2 separate regions of the Homo sapiens genome follow, and region 2 is linked to region 1. The links come from fine-mapping of genetic effects on plasma protein levels. Region 1 holds a variant in brackets. A gene starts in the other region. All regions are shown on their reverse strands.

Region 1 (8,327 bases):
CCCAGTTAATTTTTGTATTTTTAGTAGAGGTGGGGCTCCACCATGTTGGCCAGGCTGGTCTCGAACTCCTGACCTCAGGTGATCCACACACCTCGGCCTCCCAAAGTGCTGGGATTACAGGCGTGAGCCACTGCACCCGGCCCCCACTATTTGTGTGTTTCTAAAACAAATGCACAGACTCATTATCTTTAGCACACAGAGCCTGCTTTCAGTTTTGTTCCTTAGCTTTTCTTTTGCTCACTGGAGATATTTTATATCAGAATAAACTATCTGAAACTGCCTTTTACGTAGGTCAAAGACAAGCAGATATGAACAATGGATTCAAACCAGATCGATCCTGTGGACCCTGAAAATATTCCATAAACCCTGTTAGATGGGGAAAGTAGGCATTGAGGTAAGGGGTGAGGATTCTGAAACGTGCCATCCTGCTTTATGCAAGAAAAAACAATTTAAATAAATTCCTGGAAGATTTTCTGGAGAAATAAATTCCTTGAGGTATACCTCTGTCCACTTGTCCTTACTCAATTTTCATTGGAAGATTCTGGTACCATTTAGCACCCAGGTATTCCCAAGGATCCTTAAGAATGCTTTCCTCGGGCCGGGCATGGTGGCTCATGCCTGTAATCCCAGCACTTTGGGAGGCCGAGGCGGGCGGATCACCTGAGGTCGGGAGTTCCAGACCAGCCTGATCAACATGGAGAAACCCCATCTCTACTAAAAATACAAAATTAGCCGGTCGTGGTGGCGCATGCCTATAATCCCAGCTACTCGGAAGGCCGAGGCAGGAGAATCGCTTGAACCCAGGAGGCGGAGGTTGCAGTGATGCAGTGAGCTGAGATCGTGACATTGCACTCCAGCCTAGGCAACAAGAGTGAAACTCCGTTTCAAAAAAAAAGGAATGCTTTCCTCTTGGTTGGTGGTTGGGTGGGTGGCTCACATCTGTAATCCCAACACTTTGGGAGGCCAAGGTGGGAAGATTGCTTGAGCTCAGGAATTCGAGATCAGCCTGGTCAACATGACGAAACCCCGTATCTACAAAAAAAAAAAAAAAAAAATACAAAAATTAGCCAGGCATGGTGATACGTGCCTGTAGTCCCAGCTACTCAGGAAGCTGAGGTTGGAAGATCATTTGAGCCAGGGAGGCGGAGGTTGCAGTGAGCTGAGATGGCACCTCTGCACTCCAGCCTGGGGGACAGAGTGACACCCTGACTCAGGGGAAAAAAAAAAAAAACTTTCCAACCGGGAGCAGTGGCTCATGCCTGTAATCTCAGCTCTTTGGGAGGCTGAGGTGGGCAGATCACTTGAGGTCAGGAGTTTGATTTGAGACCAGCTTGGCCAACATGGTGAAACCTCTTCTCTACTAAAAAAAAATATAAAAATTAGCTGGACTTGGTGGCATGCGCCTGTAGTCCCAGCTACTCAGGAGCCTGAGCCAGGAGAATCACTTGAACCCAGGAGGCGGAGGTTGCAGCGAGCCTAGATTGAGTCGCTGTACTCCAGCCTGGGTGACAGAGCAAGACTCTGTCTCAAAAAAAAAAAAAAAAAAAAAAAAATTTCCTCTCAGAGAAGTATTCAGAATGTAGCCTCTTTCCTTGTCTCCAACCTGAGATTGCAACTTCTGGAAGAATCAGAGGGGCCTGGGACAGACACTACCTTAAATGGTTTCAGCTATTCTTTCCGGGTTTTTCTGGGGCTAGAATCACGACAGAAATTCTTGAGAACCGCTTTTTTTTTTTTCTAATTAGAAACAAAAGCAGTCATAAATTACTAGGATTCAAAGGAGGGAATTCTTTGTTTTTTTCTAACCAGTCACTTAATCCCTTGGTAGCCTTAGAGCTATCATTCATGGAAGACCCAGTGATCAGCACCTCCCTTCAGGCCTATTGTGCACCTCTCTATGCAAACTGGAAAGCACTGAGCCCGTGTAGCCTGGATTGTGAGCCTTAAACTTGTTGCTTTGCAAATTTAATGTCTTGCTTTTGCAGACACTAAATTTCAGTGATTATATGAAAGATGACCTAAGTCGTGATAAAAATCTTGGTTACATCAGCCTTTGAATGAGAAACAGTAGAGCTCAGAAGACATATCTTTGCAGTAGCTTTCCATGCAGGTTTTCTGGATATACATATGGATGTGTTGTCAAGGTGACCTTCACGTTCCACAGTGTCTCTTTCACCTTTGCTGCTATTTGCCTAGGCTATCAAGGTATCTAGGGTTATCTTTGCTCTGGGCTGAAGACAGCCTCTTCATTCTCATGTAGAGAATGTGGGGGAGGTCCTCTGTGCAGTACTTTTGGTTATAACTTGATCCTATTTGCCAAGTAACAAGGTAAAAAATTTTGCTCCAAGATCGTGAGTTTGCCATATCCATCTATGTGTGTTCTTTGGTTGGGCACTCATAAAGGAGATCTGTTGGGAAAATTAAAATGAGGTTAGTAGGGGAGTGCAACCTGGGCCCTGCAACCTTGCACAACAGCCATTCTACACTTTTCCAAGGTCACCCTCTAATTTGTACAAAGCCATCTACCTCTGTAATGATTGATTTAAGGGAGCTTCAACCTTTGTTCTTTAGATTCAGTAGCTTAAAGGGAAAGTCAGCTTCTTTTTCTTTTGGAGCCAGCTATCAGGCCCTAATGTCATTGAGAGACAACCAGGACCTAATATCTCATTCTGTTCTCTCCTCCAGTTTAATGTGGCAGCATTTTTTGATGCCCCTGGAAGTCCAGACTCAGATAAATTCTGTGGATGATAGGAAACAAATAAGATAGTAGGCACAACTTTAGAAATAGATGAAGAAGGGATTAGGAGCCAGAGGAAGACATGACAGGACACTGTTGGAAAGATGGGTTGAAGACAGATGAGCAAGCCAAACACATCACACCAGTGTATTCAAGGAACCCTCAGTCATTTGTCAAAAGTTCCATTTCCAAATCTGTGCATGAGTTTGGTCACATTTTGGCTGAAATATGTTCATGTGTACTATAAAAGTGTCTGTTGTTTAAGCTATTTAATAGACTATTAAATAACAATGGTTAAAGAAAGTTTATTTAAAAACTCCACAAGCATAACAAAATAGGTTTATATTTCTGTGTTCCCACCCAGGCTTTCCAAACATATTTCCCAGCTAAAATCACTTTAAGACCGGGTGCCATGGCTCATGCCTGTAATCCCAGCACTTTGGGAGGTGGAGGTGGGTGGGATCACCTGAGATCAGGAGTTTGAGACCAGCCTGGCCAACATGGTGGGACCCTGTCTCTACTAAAAATACAAAAATTAGCCGGTCATGGTGGCGGGCACCTGTAGTCCCAGCTACTCGGGAGGCTGAGGCAGGAGAATGGCTTGAACCCTGGGAGGCAGAGGTTGCAGTGAGCCGAGATCACGCCACTGCGCTTCAGCCTGGGCAACAAGAGCAAAACTCCATCTTGAAATAATTAAACTAATAAATAAATAAAAATTTAAGAAATAAAATCACTTTAAACATCTTCCACGCTGTTTTTGGTTTTCAGAATATCTTAGTATAATAATGATTTACTTAGCTATCTCTGTCTTTTGATAAAAATTTATTTTTCTTCGTTCTTTTGTTCTTTCTCTTTTCCTGTCATAAATGTTTCAATAGCTAACTTTGGGCATATAACCTTTAATTTATTTGAATCATTGCCTTTCATTAATGCCAGGAATGGACTACCTATTTCTTTTCTTTCATTCTTTTTTTTTTTTTTGAGACGTAGTTTCACTCTTGTTGCCTAGGCTGGAGTGCAATGGTGTGATCTCAGCTCACTGCAACCTCCACCTCCTGGGTTGAAGCGATTCTTCTGCCTCAGCCTCCTGAGTAACTGGGATTACAGGCACCCATCACCACACCCAGCTAATTTTTTGTATTTTTAGTAGAGACG[G/A]GGTTTCACCATGTTGGCCAAGCTGGTCTTGAACTCCTGACCTCAGGTGATCCGCCTGCCTTGGCCTCTCAAAATGCTGGGGTTACAGGCGTGAGCCACCCGGCCTGGACTACCTATTTCTAAAATTGTTTTAAATATTCCCAAATCGCTTTCCATACATTTTGTCCACTGGTGTGAGTGTTCTGTGACCATGGGATATAAAACATTGACAGCTCTATTAGGGGATAAATGGCATTTGAGAATGATATAAAGGTGCTACTCATCTACCTGGTACTATACGGGAAATAACATTGGTCTTGAAAGCAGGAGACCTGGGCTCTTGTATTAGCTCTGCTGACTCATCAGCTTTACGATCTTGGACAGATCATTTCACTGTCAAAGACCTGTTTTTCCCTTCATTCTACTGAGCTAAAAATAAACACCCTAGAGAATTTTCGTGAACGTCAAATGAGGCAATAATATCTGTGAAGACCCTGTGAAAATGACACAAACGTAAATTTGAAGTACTTTGAAAGAGCAAGCTGAAAATAATTTAACTTGGTCTAGAAAATCGTAATGGAGACTGTGTGGACGTGAAGAGTGTTCTGCAAATAGCTCCCAAGCCTTTACTTGCCAAGGCTCGTGGCTGAACATGTTTGCCCTCATTTATTGTTTGCAGCTTCCTGAGTTTTACTCGTTGTCCTTTTGGGATTAATTTCAATTTGATTCATCTTTTCATCTGCTTAGCCCTTCTCTATTTTGGTATCAAGTTGATTTTTTTTTTTTTTTTTTTGAGACAGAGTCTCCCTCTGTCACCCAGGCTGGAGTGCAGTGGCTCGGTCTTGGCTCACTGCAGCCTCTGCCTCCTGGGTTAAAGTGATTCTTCTGCCTCAGCCTCCTGAGTAGCTGGGACTACAGGTACCTGCCACCACGCCCAGCTAATTTTTGTATTTTTAGTAGAGACAGGGTTTCACCCTGTTGGCCAGGCTGGTCTTGAACTCCTGACCTCAAGCAATCTGCCTGCCTTGGCCTCCCAAAGTGCTGGGATTACAGGCATGAACCACCGCGTCCGGCCTCAAGCTGATTTTTTAATTTGTTTGTTTTGTAAAGACAACCTCTCACTATGTTGCTCAGGCTGGTATCGAACTCCTGGCCTCAAGCAATCCGCCAGCCTAAGTCTCTGTCTCTGTGCCAGCCTACTATCAACTTTTATGTTAATTACCAAATGCTGCTCTTCCAGATTGTTTAACATTCATTCATTCATCCATGCTGCAGTCTACAAATATTTATTGGATGCTGTGGCTCACATCTGTACTCTCAGCACTTTGGGAGGCTGAGGTGGGAGGATCACTTGAGGCCAGGAGTTCAAGACCAGACTGGGCAATATAGTGAGACTCTCTTTCTCTACTAAAAATTAAGAAAATGAGCCAGGCATGGTGGCATGCCTGTAGTCCCAGCTACTCAGGAGGATTAGATGGAAGGATTGCTTGAGCACAGGAGGTCAAGGCTGCAATGAGCTATGATCATGCCACTGCACTCCAGCCCAGGCAACAGAGCAAGACCCCGTCTCTTAAAAAAAAAAAAATTATTGGATGCTTAAGGTATGTGACCTTTACTGTTCATTGCTAAAAAATTATAAAATTATGTGACAATTATTTCTTTAATTATATTATGTGACTATTTTTTTAAAAAGTTTTTGGCAATCTTGAAACTCTTTTGCAATCATTATTTTACCTTTGCTTTTCTTAGGAAAGAATTTAAATATTAACAAAAGTTACAGCCTTTCATAAAGAAAATATTCACCATCCTATTTTTAATGGTCCAAATTTCATGGCCCTTTTTTTTTTTTTTTTTTTTTTTTTAGATAGGAGTCTTGCTCTGTCACCCAGCTGGAGTGTAGTGGCGCGATCTCAGTTCATTGCAACCTTCTTCTCCCTGGTTCAAGCCATTCTTCTGCCTCAGCCTCCTGAGTAGCTGGGACTATAAGCATGCACCACCACACCTGGCTAATTTTTTTTTTTTTTGAGATGGAGTCTCGCTCTGTCGCCTAGGCTGGAGACCAGTGTCACAATCTCGGCTCACTGCAACATCCACCTCCCAGGTTCACGCCATTCTCCTGCCTCAGCCTCCTGAGTAGCTGGGACTACAGGTGCCCGACACCACGCCTGGCTGATTTTCTGTATTTTTATTAGAGATGGTGTTTCACCATGTTAGCCAGGATGGTCTCAATCTCCTGACATAGTGATCCGCCCGCCTCGGCCTCCCAAAGTGCTGGGATTACAGGTGTGAGCCAAGCGCCCGGCCTAGTTTTTGTGTTTTTAGTAGAGACGGGGTTTCACCATGTTGGCCAGGCTGGTCTCAAGCTCCTGACCTCAAGTAATCCGCCCGCCTCAGCCTCCCAAAGTGCTGACATTACAGGCATGAGCCACTGCGCCTGGCCCAAATTCATGTTTTCTATAGTTGAAATAACTCAGTATTACATTTTAATGAATTTCTCCCTATTCTTTTTCAATCATTATATTTTCAAATTTTCTGGCCAGATGTGGTGGCTCATGCCTATAATCCTGGCACTTTGGGAGGCCAAGGAGGATGGATTGCTTGAGCCCAGGAGTTTTAAGACCAGCCTGGGCAACATGGCAAAACTCTATCTCTACAAAAAATACAAAAATTAGCTGGGCATGGTGGCATGTGCCTGTAGTCCCAGCTACTCAAGAGGCTGAGGTGGGAGGATCACTTGAGTCCAGCAGGTCAAGGCTGTAGTGAGCTGTGTTTGAGCTGTGTTCACACCACTGCACTCCAGCCCGGGTGACAGAGCAAGGCCTTGTCTTAAAAAAAAATTATTCTAACAAATTATTGATTATTCTCAGTTTGTATTGTCTCAGAATTTTCCTGAAGGAATGTAAAAACTAAACTCTAGCATATTTGTTCCTTTAAAACAAATGTCCTGTTAAAGAATTCTGATTTCAATGATAATATTACTAAATTAGACTAGTGGCTGAGCCAGAATCTATACCTGGCAACACAAAAGGAAAAAAGTCTAGAATAAAGTTCATAATTTGATTAAATGAAGCATCTAGTTTCCCTCTATTAGAAATTGGAAGAAATCAGCATTAGTAAATTAGTGCTTTAGTGAAGTTCTCTTTGCCGGAGGAGAGCATTTGCATGCCATCTTTGTAGAGGGTGTAATGATATTTAAGGCTTTTTGTTAGTGATCCTGATAGTAATTTTTTCATGCAAAAGGACTATATCTCATGGTATAACTGAAGCTAAAATGGTCTGGGTTGGTGACTTGAAGCCTTTCCTCAGGATTTGGGAATACAGATAGTCAACATATAAACCACCATGGAGGCCTGGCACAGTAGCTCTCACCTGTAATCCCAGCACTTTGGGAGGCCGAGGCGGGTGGATCACTTGAGGTCAGGAATTCGAGAACAGCCTGGCCAACATGGTGAAACCCCATCTCTATTAAAAATACAAAAATTAGCCAGGCGTGGTGGCACATGCCTGTAGTCCCAGCTACCAGGGAGGCTGAAACAGAATCGCTTGAACCCGGGATGCAAAGGTTGCAGTGAGCCGAGATAGCGCCACTGCACTCCAGCCTGGGCAACAGTGCGAAGCTCCATCTCAAAAAAAGAAAAAGAAAAAGAAACCACCATGGAGATTACAAATTATTATAATAATAAAAACAAGGGCCATCACGTGTAGAGCCTGCAGCAAAGCCAGATTTACTGTGAGCCTAATGAAGCTTTAGCTTCAGGTCGCCTTGCTTACCTACGTCCCTAGAAATGCCCTGGGTGGGTCAGGGAGCCTAGTTGCAATTGGAAGCATTTCTAGGTGAGCAGTTCTTGCAAATTCCCTAAAGAGACTTTAGAAAAAAAGGACTCTAAGGCTATAGTAATTTATTGTGCTAGGCGTGGTAGCTCATGTCTGTAATCCCAGCACTTTGGGAAGCCAAGGCTGGTGGATCACTTGAGCCCAGGAGTTCGAGACCGGCCTGGCCAACATGGCAAAACCTCGTCTCTACAAAAAATACAAAAATTAGCTGGGTATGGTGGTGTGCACCTGTAATCCCAGCTACTCAGGAGGCTGAGGTGGGAGGATCACCTGAGCCCACGGAGGTTGAGGCTGCAATGAGCCGTGATTGTGCCACTGCACTCCAGCTTGGGTGACAGAATGAGACCTGTCTCAAAAACAAAAACAAAAACAAAAAATAACTATCATAATTTATTGTGATGTTTTTCTCATTCTAAATAAATGCTCATTTATTTATTTTTGCAGAGACAGGGTCTCACTATGTTGCCCAGGCTGGTCTCAAACTCAAGCAATCCTCCTGCCTTGGCCTCCCAAAGTGCCTGAGCTACTGTACCTGGCCAGATATTTACTTTTGTACTGATTTTTGTCTCCCTTTAAAATTTTTTTTATTTTAAAAAAAAGATCCTTCCCCACTATTGTAAAA
Region 2 (8,288 bases), not on the chromosome of region 1:
GTACCAGTGGCCACCACGCTCAGCCCGCCCACAGCACAGACGCACAGGCTGCCCAAGGGCTACTGTCAGCTCCTGCTCTTGCTGCTCCAGGCTGGGAGCCAGGCAGGGCTCTGTGGGCAGAGGGCAGAGGTCAGCAGACCCCGCAGCCCCATCTGAGGCAGCCTCCTGTGTACAAAGAACACACCGCACATGCAGGGCACAAGCACTTTGCAACGCATGCTGAAGGAGCCACCACTCCTTGACACCCACACAGCCACATGCTGCGGATGCCACACCCAGGGCAAATGCCACACTCTTGGGGCATGTCACACACACAGCATTTAGTGCACACGACAGTGGCCAAGACACACACACACACACACACGCATACACACACACACATACGGACACACACACACACAAGGCACATGCTGTTGGTGCCACATACAGGGTCATGCTGCACCGGGGCATATCACCCTCATAATGCTTATACCACACATGCTGCCTGGACCTCCTAGGTCACACACCCAGTGCACAGAACACACACACACACGCACACACACCCAGGTAAGGAGCTCACCACCAGCTCTGCAGCCCAGCTTAGGGCCCTGCGCCCTGCAAGGCCAGTCCTCTCTCGCAGACACAGTGATAGATGAATGCTTGCTGGAAGCCAGGCACTGACTGAGTCTCAGTGGTTGAGCCCTGCCCTGCCGCCACCTTCTCAGGGCCTGGGCAAGGATCCTTTCCAGCTTTGCTCAGCCCAGCAGCCCCCTCCTGGTGCCCACTCTTCCCACCCCTGCCACCCTCTCCCACCTCAGAAGCCATACCAAGCTCCACTTCCTCAGAGGCCTCCAGGGACAAGACTGGAGGCCCAGGCACACTCAGCAGGACCCCCAACAGGGCCAGCAGCAGCCGCATCTCCTTCTCACAGCTCTCAGGGACCCAAGCTGGACTTCCCACCAACTGCCTTCCTAAAATAGGGAGGGAAAAGAGCTCCTGCTACACGTGCACCTTTGTGGGGGCTTTTCCCTTATTTTGCAGATAAGGAAACTGAGACAGGAAGTGGCCAGCAGATGTGTCCAAGTCCCTGGCCAGGCTGTGGCAGTGCAGACTGGAACCAGCTCTGTAGTAGCCAGAGCCTAAGGCCTCCCCACGGTAGGTTGTGCAAGGGGTCTGGGCTGGGCTTCCTGCTCTCCCTGAGTCCTGCTGGGACCCTGGCACACGTTCACAGAAAGCAGTTTTGGGATTCTTTTTTGGAGGGAAGCAGAGAACGGAGACATATCTTCTGCATGCTCTCGGCACACATAATTTCTTTTTTGCTAAATAAATGAATTGATTGCAGAAGAGCCAAAAAAGAAAGTGAAAAATGACACAAGGTCAAACTTCAGCATCTGGATGGCATCTGATCCGATCCCCACTCCTTACAGCATTACTGACATTTCCAGGGCTGGGTGGTCACAACTGACAAGGCGGCCCCTTCCGTGGCAAGCAGGACCGCGACCCTGGATACCTCTGCTTGTTATGCACCAACTCCATCTGAGGCACACACGGTTTTGTAAAGAATACAGACCCTAATTTTCCATCTGCCAGAGCCAAGTTCAAATCCTGACTCTCACCAACTTGTAATTCCTTGTCTCTGTCTCTCTCTGGCTTACTATCCTCATAGGACTGTTTTGAGGATAAAAGAGAGAACGTGCGTCGGCACGCAGAGTGTTGGAATGTTCTCCTCCCTGTGCCCGGCCCTAGAACGGTTAACCTGTTGCCCTGGGTCTGCCCTTAGCCAGTCACCTCTGGTTCGGATGCTGTTACTGTCAGGCTGTGATGTACACACACCCCAGCTGGCTATCCTCTTCCAAATGCTACCAAGGACGCCTCTGTTCCCCAAAATAGAACACTCAGAACTGAGTCTCAGCTGGGACAAAGGAATCGGTGACCACTGCAGTCCTAGGGGCCTATGGGTGGCACTGGTGTCTCTGGATCTACCCTGCGTGGGAAGCCTATCACACCTCCTCCTCCTTGGTCACTGCCACTCCACTTCCAGTCCATCTGGCTTCCCCTGCCCCTTCTCAAGGCAGGTCATGGCCATCTCTTGCATGGGCCTCTGGAAACATCCTCTCCCTCGGCTCTTCAACCTTCATCTTCCAGCAGAGTTTTAAAAAACTACAAGTCGGCTGGGCGCGATGGTTCACACCTGTAATCCCAGCACTTTGGGAGGCCGAGGTGGGCGGATCACGAGGTCAGGAGATCGAGAACATCCTGGCTAACACGGTGAAACCCCGTCTCTACTAAAAATACAAAAAATTAGCCGGGCGCGGTGGCGGGCGCCTGTAGTCCCAGCTACTCGGGAGGCTGAGGCAGGAGAATGGCGCGAACCCGGGAGGCGGAGCTTGCAGTGAGCCGAGATCGCGCCACTGCACTCCAGCCTGGGCGACAGAGTGAGACTCCGTCTCAAAAAAAACAAAATAAAAAAATAAAATAAAATAAAAAAACAAACAAAAAAACCTGCAAGTCTGCCATGTCATGCCCCCCAGCTTGCAAGCCCTTAATGGCTACCTGTGCCCAGCAGGATCCAGCTCAACATCCTAGGGCTCCCTCTCTGCCGCTGCCTATCTCTTTGGTCACACCGTCTGCCCCTTCAGGAGCGCTGAAGCCATTGGCTTTCAAAACTGGGCACATGTGCTCTCTTGCCCATCCCTCTGTGCCCCTCATTGCTCTTCTCTACCTGACTCAGATACTGCTGTCTCTGGCCCACCTCAACTCTCGAATCCAGTCGGATCCTCCTTGGTAAAACTCCCTACCAAGCTCGGCTTGGCAGGGAGGGCAGCTCTTTGGGTACACAGCTTGGGCTGGGAGTGGGTGGGGAGGCCCGGGGAGTTTATTCCTACCCCAGGCTGCCCTGATATCAGAGTCCTTAGTCGAGTCACCCATGGCTGCTGACCGCTGACCGACCACCCCCCACGTGGGAATGGAGGGCCTGCCTTAGGCATCAGACAGTCCTGGGTTCTCCTTCAGCCTCCCGCACTCGCGCTGGAGGCCCCCGGGCACTAAGTGACTGAACTTTTCGGGGCCTCAGGTCCCTCATCTCTGCCGCCGGCGCGAAGACAGCCGCAGGGACAAGCGCGCTTGTCCTCCCCCACCCTTGCCGGGCCAGCCTGGGGGGAGGTGCGAATCAATGGGTCCCGAGGGTAGCTGCACAGGGCCAGCCTGCCCCCGCCTCGGTGGGCAATGAGTAACCAGCTCCGCGGCCGGGGTGCTCTTTGGACGGAGCGGGACAAAAGGCCCTGTGTGCACTGCGGGTTACTGATTTACCGCCCCCTCCACCCCCTGCCGCCCGGCGGACGCCCAGGTCCCCTGCGCCGGGAGGGGCAGTCCCCGTAGCCCCGCCGCCTCTCGCCCCCTGGCGGCTGGGAGCGCAGCCCGGGCCCACAAGGGTTCCGGCTCACCTCGAGCCTGCGTGACTCCGCGCCCAGCACAGGGTCCTGCTCACCTGGCTCCTCCTCACCTGGCTCCTCCGCCGCCTCACTCCCAGCTCCAGCCGGCCGCGACCCCTGCACGCGGCAGGGTCCGCAGACAGCCCGAGCGCTCCTCGGCCGGGAGCGAGGAATGTACCCGCGACGGCGGCGTGGCCGCGAGCGGCCCACCTCCTGTCCCACCCCGCCCCTCGGGCCCGCCCCCTCCTGCTCGGGCCCGCCCCTCCTTCCACGCCCCCCCCCCCCCCACCCGGGCCCGCCCACCTCCTGCCACACCCCCTCGGGCCCGCCCCGCCTAGACCAGCTCGAGCCGGAGAGAGGTGTGGCCAGGGGTGGCCAAGATCCCCGCCCACCTGGAGAGCCCCGCCCCCGACCCAGTCAGCCCACTCCCGGGACCCCGCCCCAGCCTATACACACACCCCTACACGCAACCCCCCTATACACACCCCATTCAGGCTCCGCCTCTTTCGCCCCACCCAGGCCCCAGGCCAGGCTCCTAAATTCTAGTCTACTACCCAGCTCTACTCCTTGCTTTTCACCCTTCAGGGAATGCCTGGCTCCCCTGTCTTCTGCGCAGTGCCGTGCAGCGGATAGGAGAACCCCTTCCTTCTGCTCCCTCATTTGTTCCCTGCGCAACCTGCGGAGTGATACTTACAACACAAATCTGACTGTGTCAGCCACTCCCTTAAATTTTCCTATAGATTCCCATAGCTCTTTATACATAGATTGCCATGACCCACGCCTCCTGGCTCCCACCCTGCTACTCCTGGGCAGTTTCACGTACCATTCTCTCTTCCTGGAATGGCCCTTGGTCTGGTTAATTTCATATTATTCTCAGCTCACTTCCTTCAGGAAGCCCTCTGGACTTGCAAGCTCCTCTTAGATGACGTCTCTACTGTGAGGATGGAGAAAGAAACAGGGTGAAGTGGTTCAGAGCACAGACTACAGGGCTGGACGTCATAGGCCCAGCTCTCAGCACCATCACACAAGGCCTCAGTCTTCACTGTCCTTTCAGTAAAACAGGCAAATGATAGTCTCACCCACAAGAGGTTGTTGCAAAAAGTAGACATGTTAGCAGTATGTGTAAGCCTGGCATGCAGCGCTTGCTTTGTAATACTAGCTGTAATTATTTAGGACCTGTTATTTCTTCAGCACGCTTGCCAGAATTGTAACTGAACAGTTAATTATGTAAATAGCTGTGGAATGGCCGGGCACAATGACGGGTGCCTGTAGTTCTAGTTACTAGGAGACTGAGGTAGGAGGACAGCTTGAATTCAGGAGTGTGAGGCCAGCCCTGGCAACATAGTTGCCCTGTCTCTATTTTTCAGTAGAGGAACTGTGTCCTCAGACCTCACCATTAGAGTTCAAGTGTCTGGCATACAGTAGGTGCTCCCAGATAGCTCCGTGCCCACCTGGCTCATGTTTGCCTCACCTGTAAGCACTTCTCTCCTGAGCATCTAGACTGTGGCCAAACCAGGAGGCCAGGCAGCCTCTGATCTCTGCCCATCCCTCACCTGAATCTCAAGCCTTCTCCTTCTCTTAAGGCACCTTGAGAGGAAGGGAAATGGGCTGGGTGCACCTGTGGTCCCAGCTACTTGGGAGGCTGAGGCCAGAGGATTGCTTGAGCCCAGGAAGTCGAGGCAGCAGTGAGCCGTGATCGCTCCACTGCACTGTAGCCTGGGCAACAGGCTATGGAGCGAGACCCTGTCTGAGGCTCAGGTCCTGGTTGTCCCCTCTAGCTAGTGTAGACCCTGTCTTAAGAAGCAACTTCCTTTCTCATTGTTACGCAGGCAAGTCTAGTTCTTTCCACCCTCACTCCCAAAGGGATAGTGGCATATCTTTGCATAACTGTAAGGCCCATTAAAGAGACTTAAAATTGTTTTTTTCTTTTTCTTCTTAAGCGAAAGAATGGTCTCCTCCCAAAGATAAATCAGAAAATAATTGAGGCCAGGCATGGTGGCTCATGCCTATAATCCCAGCACTGTGGGAGGCTGAATCGGGAGGATCGCTTGAACTCAGGAGTTCGAGGCCAGCCTGGGCAACATAGTGAGATCTCGTCTCTATTAAAAATATATATTAGGCTGGGCACGGTGGCTCACGCCTGTAATCTCAGCACTTTGGGAGGCTTAGGTGGGTGGATCACGAGGTCAGGAGTTCAAGACCAACCTGGCAAGATGGTGAAACCCCAGCTCTACTAAAAATACAAAAAAATTAGCCAGGCATGGTGGCATGTGCCTGTAATCTCAGCTACTAGGGAGGCTGAGGCAGAGAATTGCTTGAACCCGGGAGGTGGAGGTTGCAGTGAGCCGAGATCGTGCCATTGCACTCCAGACTGGGTGACAGAGTGAGACTTTGTCTCCAAAAAAAAAAAAAAATATATATATATATATATATGTGTGTGTGTGTGTGTGTGTGTGTGTCTGTGTGTGTCTGTGTGTCTGTGTGTATATACATACACACAGACACACCCACACATATATATGTATATTATAAATTTTTTTTTAATTGGTTATCTTTTAAAAACAATTTGTCCTGGTTCCCTTCTCTAGAGTCCTGCCTTGCTGGAGCTCCCAGGACAGATGAGGCTCCTGGCCCTGGGAGCTGCCTGCCCAGAGGGTACCTTGCCAGACCTCCCGGACTGCTGGAGGGGTTCAGCTCCCTGCCTCTGGCCCTCTGCTGGCTCCCCTTGTGAATGTGGTTGTGGGGGGAGACAGGGTGAGCCGCCAGCTGGAGCTGGACCCCACATGGCTTTCATTCACCTTCCCGGGCATTTCCTGAGTTTACCAGAGCCAAAGACAAACTAAAAGTTTTCATAGCTCAGGTCTTGCAACCTCCTTGTCTCCTGAGATGCGCAAATCCCTCAGATTTGCAACCCTCTGATGTCCCTAGGATATGTTCCCCATATCCCTTGTCTGCCTCCTCTCCCCGCACTCATAACCTTTCACACTGACCCTCCACAGAGGCTGATGCTCCCTCACAAAGTCATTCACTCATTCACTCATTCATCTGAATGATTATTTATTGAAGGTTCATTATGTGGCATCCACTGTTTTAAATCCTGGGGATAAAGCCCCGAATTGGACTCTTTTTCTTTTCTTTTCTTTGGGAGACAGTGTCTTGCTCTGTTGTCCAGGCTGGAGTGCAGTGGTGTGATCTTAGTTCACTGCAAGCTCTGCCTCCTGGGTTCAAGTGATTCTCCTGCCTCAGGCTCCTGAGTAGCTGGGATTACAAATGTGCACTACTACACCTGGCTAATTTTTATATTTTTAGTAGAGACAAGGTTTCACCATATTGACCAGGCTAGTCTCAAACTCCTGACCTCAAGTTATCTGCCCATGTCAGCCTCCTCAAATGCTGGGATTACAGATGTGAGCCACCTCACCTGGCCTGGACCCTACTTCTACCCTTCAAGGGGCTGCTGACATTGTAGTGGGGACAGACAGATAAGTAATCAGTTACAGCCTGGGAGATAAGCTGAGCCAGTCAGGGAGAGCACCTAAGCCTTTCACACTGTCTCACTCTCTTGCTGACACGCAATCTTTCACCAGTCACATTTGCAGTCTCTTTCTCAAAGACATTCAGACACGACTGGGCACAGTGGCTCACTCCTGTAATCCCAGCACTTTGGGAGTCTGAGGTGGGCGGATCACTTGAGGTCAGGAGTTCGAGACCACCCTGGCCAACATGGTAAAACCCCATCTCTACTAAAAATACAAAAATTGGCCAGGCATGGTGGCACACGCTTGTAATCCCAGCTACTGGGGTGGCTGAGGCAGGAGAATCACTTGAACCTGGGAGGCAGATGTTGCATTGAACCAAGATCACGCACTGCACTCTAGCCTGGGAAACAGAGCAAGACCCTGTCTCAAAAAAAAAAAAAAATACATTCAGACACACACACACACACACACACACACTCTCTCTCTCTCTCTCTCTCGCTTAGCAGAGGCAAGAGCCTGTCACCCTAAGATCCTGCTGTTAACCTGCCTCTGCCTCAGTTTCCCCACCCAGAAAGCCGTCATGCTCCAGCTTCCTCTTCTTCCTTTTTTTTTTTTTTTTTTTGTGGAGATGGAGCCTCGCTCTATTGCCCAGGCTGGAGTGCAGTGGCGTGATCTTGGCTCACTGCAACCTCCGCCTCCCAGGCTCAAGCAATTCTCCTGCCTCTCCTGCCTCAGCCTTCCTAGTAGCCGGGACTACAGGCGCCTGCCACCACACCCAGCTAATTTTTGTATTTTTGTAGAGACGGGGTTTCACCATGTTGGCCAGGCTGGTCTCGATCTCCTGACCTCAGGTGATCCACCCGTCTCGGCCTCCCAAAGTGCTGGCATTACAGGCGTGAGCAACGGCTCCCGGCTGCTCCAGCTTCTTTCTTCCTAGGAGTGTTGGGGGAAATGAACGTGTTCCTGTTCCTGAGCTCGTGACTCTTCAGCTCCCGTTACATGCCAGGCATCATGCTGGGTGTTGTACATGGGTTATATCCTTTAATTCTTCCACCAAGCCAAATGGCATAGGAATCCTTAGCTCTGATTTGTAGGTGAAGAAACAAGCTCAGGGAGATGGAATTACTTATTTGAGGTCATCTAGCAAGTGAATTGCAGAACTCGAACCCCTGTCTTCTGGGGCAAAGATGGAGAGCTCGGGATAACTCTCCAGAGTGGGATCATTGATGCTACTGCATCAGATGCTTTCTGTCTCCATCCTTAACTGTGGCCCGGGAAGGTGCAGATTCACCTGAAGGTGAGTGTGTTGGGGAGGGAGGTGTGGGGGCTGGGACTGAGCACTGCACTCCTTGACCTTTTAGCCAGCAGTCCTGAGGAGACACCAGGCCCAGGCAGGGGT

Direction of the effects. Alleles are on the strand shown, and positions count from the first base shown. The strength of an association depends on the size of the effect and on how common the allele is.
In carriers of allele A in region 1, the plasma level of the protein whose gene starts at base 3,585 in region 2 tends to be higher than with G alone (moderate association).

What was found. PIP is the posterior inclusion probability: the model's chance that the variant is causal. Protein levels are from antibody-based Olink assays in UK Biobank. Linkage for the fine-mapping came from a reference panel and not from the study's own genotypes, which makes the PIPs less certain.
Region 2: FGFR4 starts here. The variant in region 1 is fine-mapped to the plasma level of the FGFR4 protein (UK Biobank, PIP 0.99).

Annotation. Positions count from the first base shown.
Region 1 is chr4:39,423,820-39,432,146 of GRCh38, reverse strand. The region is part of intron 1 of KLB (klotho beta); the gene reads right to left. Among named protein-coding and RNA genes, the nearest start is that of MIR5591, 16 kb to the right of the region's middle. The variant G/A (reference allele first, on the strand shown) is at 3,893.
Region 2 is chr5:177,082,212-177,090,499 of GRCh38, reverse strand. It overlaps FGFR4 (fibroblast growth factor receptor 4), which reads right to left and starts at 3,585. Exons shown (of 18, transcript NM_213647.3): 1 at 3,423-3,585; 2 at 807-950; 3 at 1-110. The coding sequence starts at 897. RefSeq lists an enhancer at 3,069-3,519, silencers at 3,215-3,674, 3,925-3,974 and a promoter at 3,485-3,704.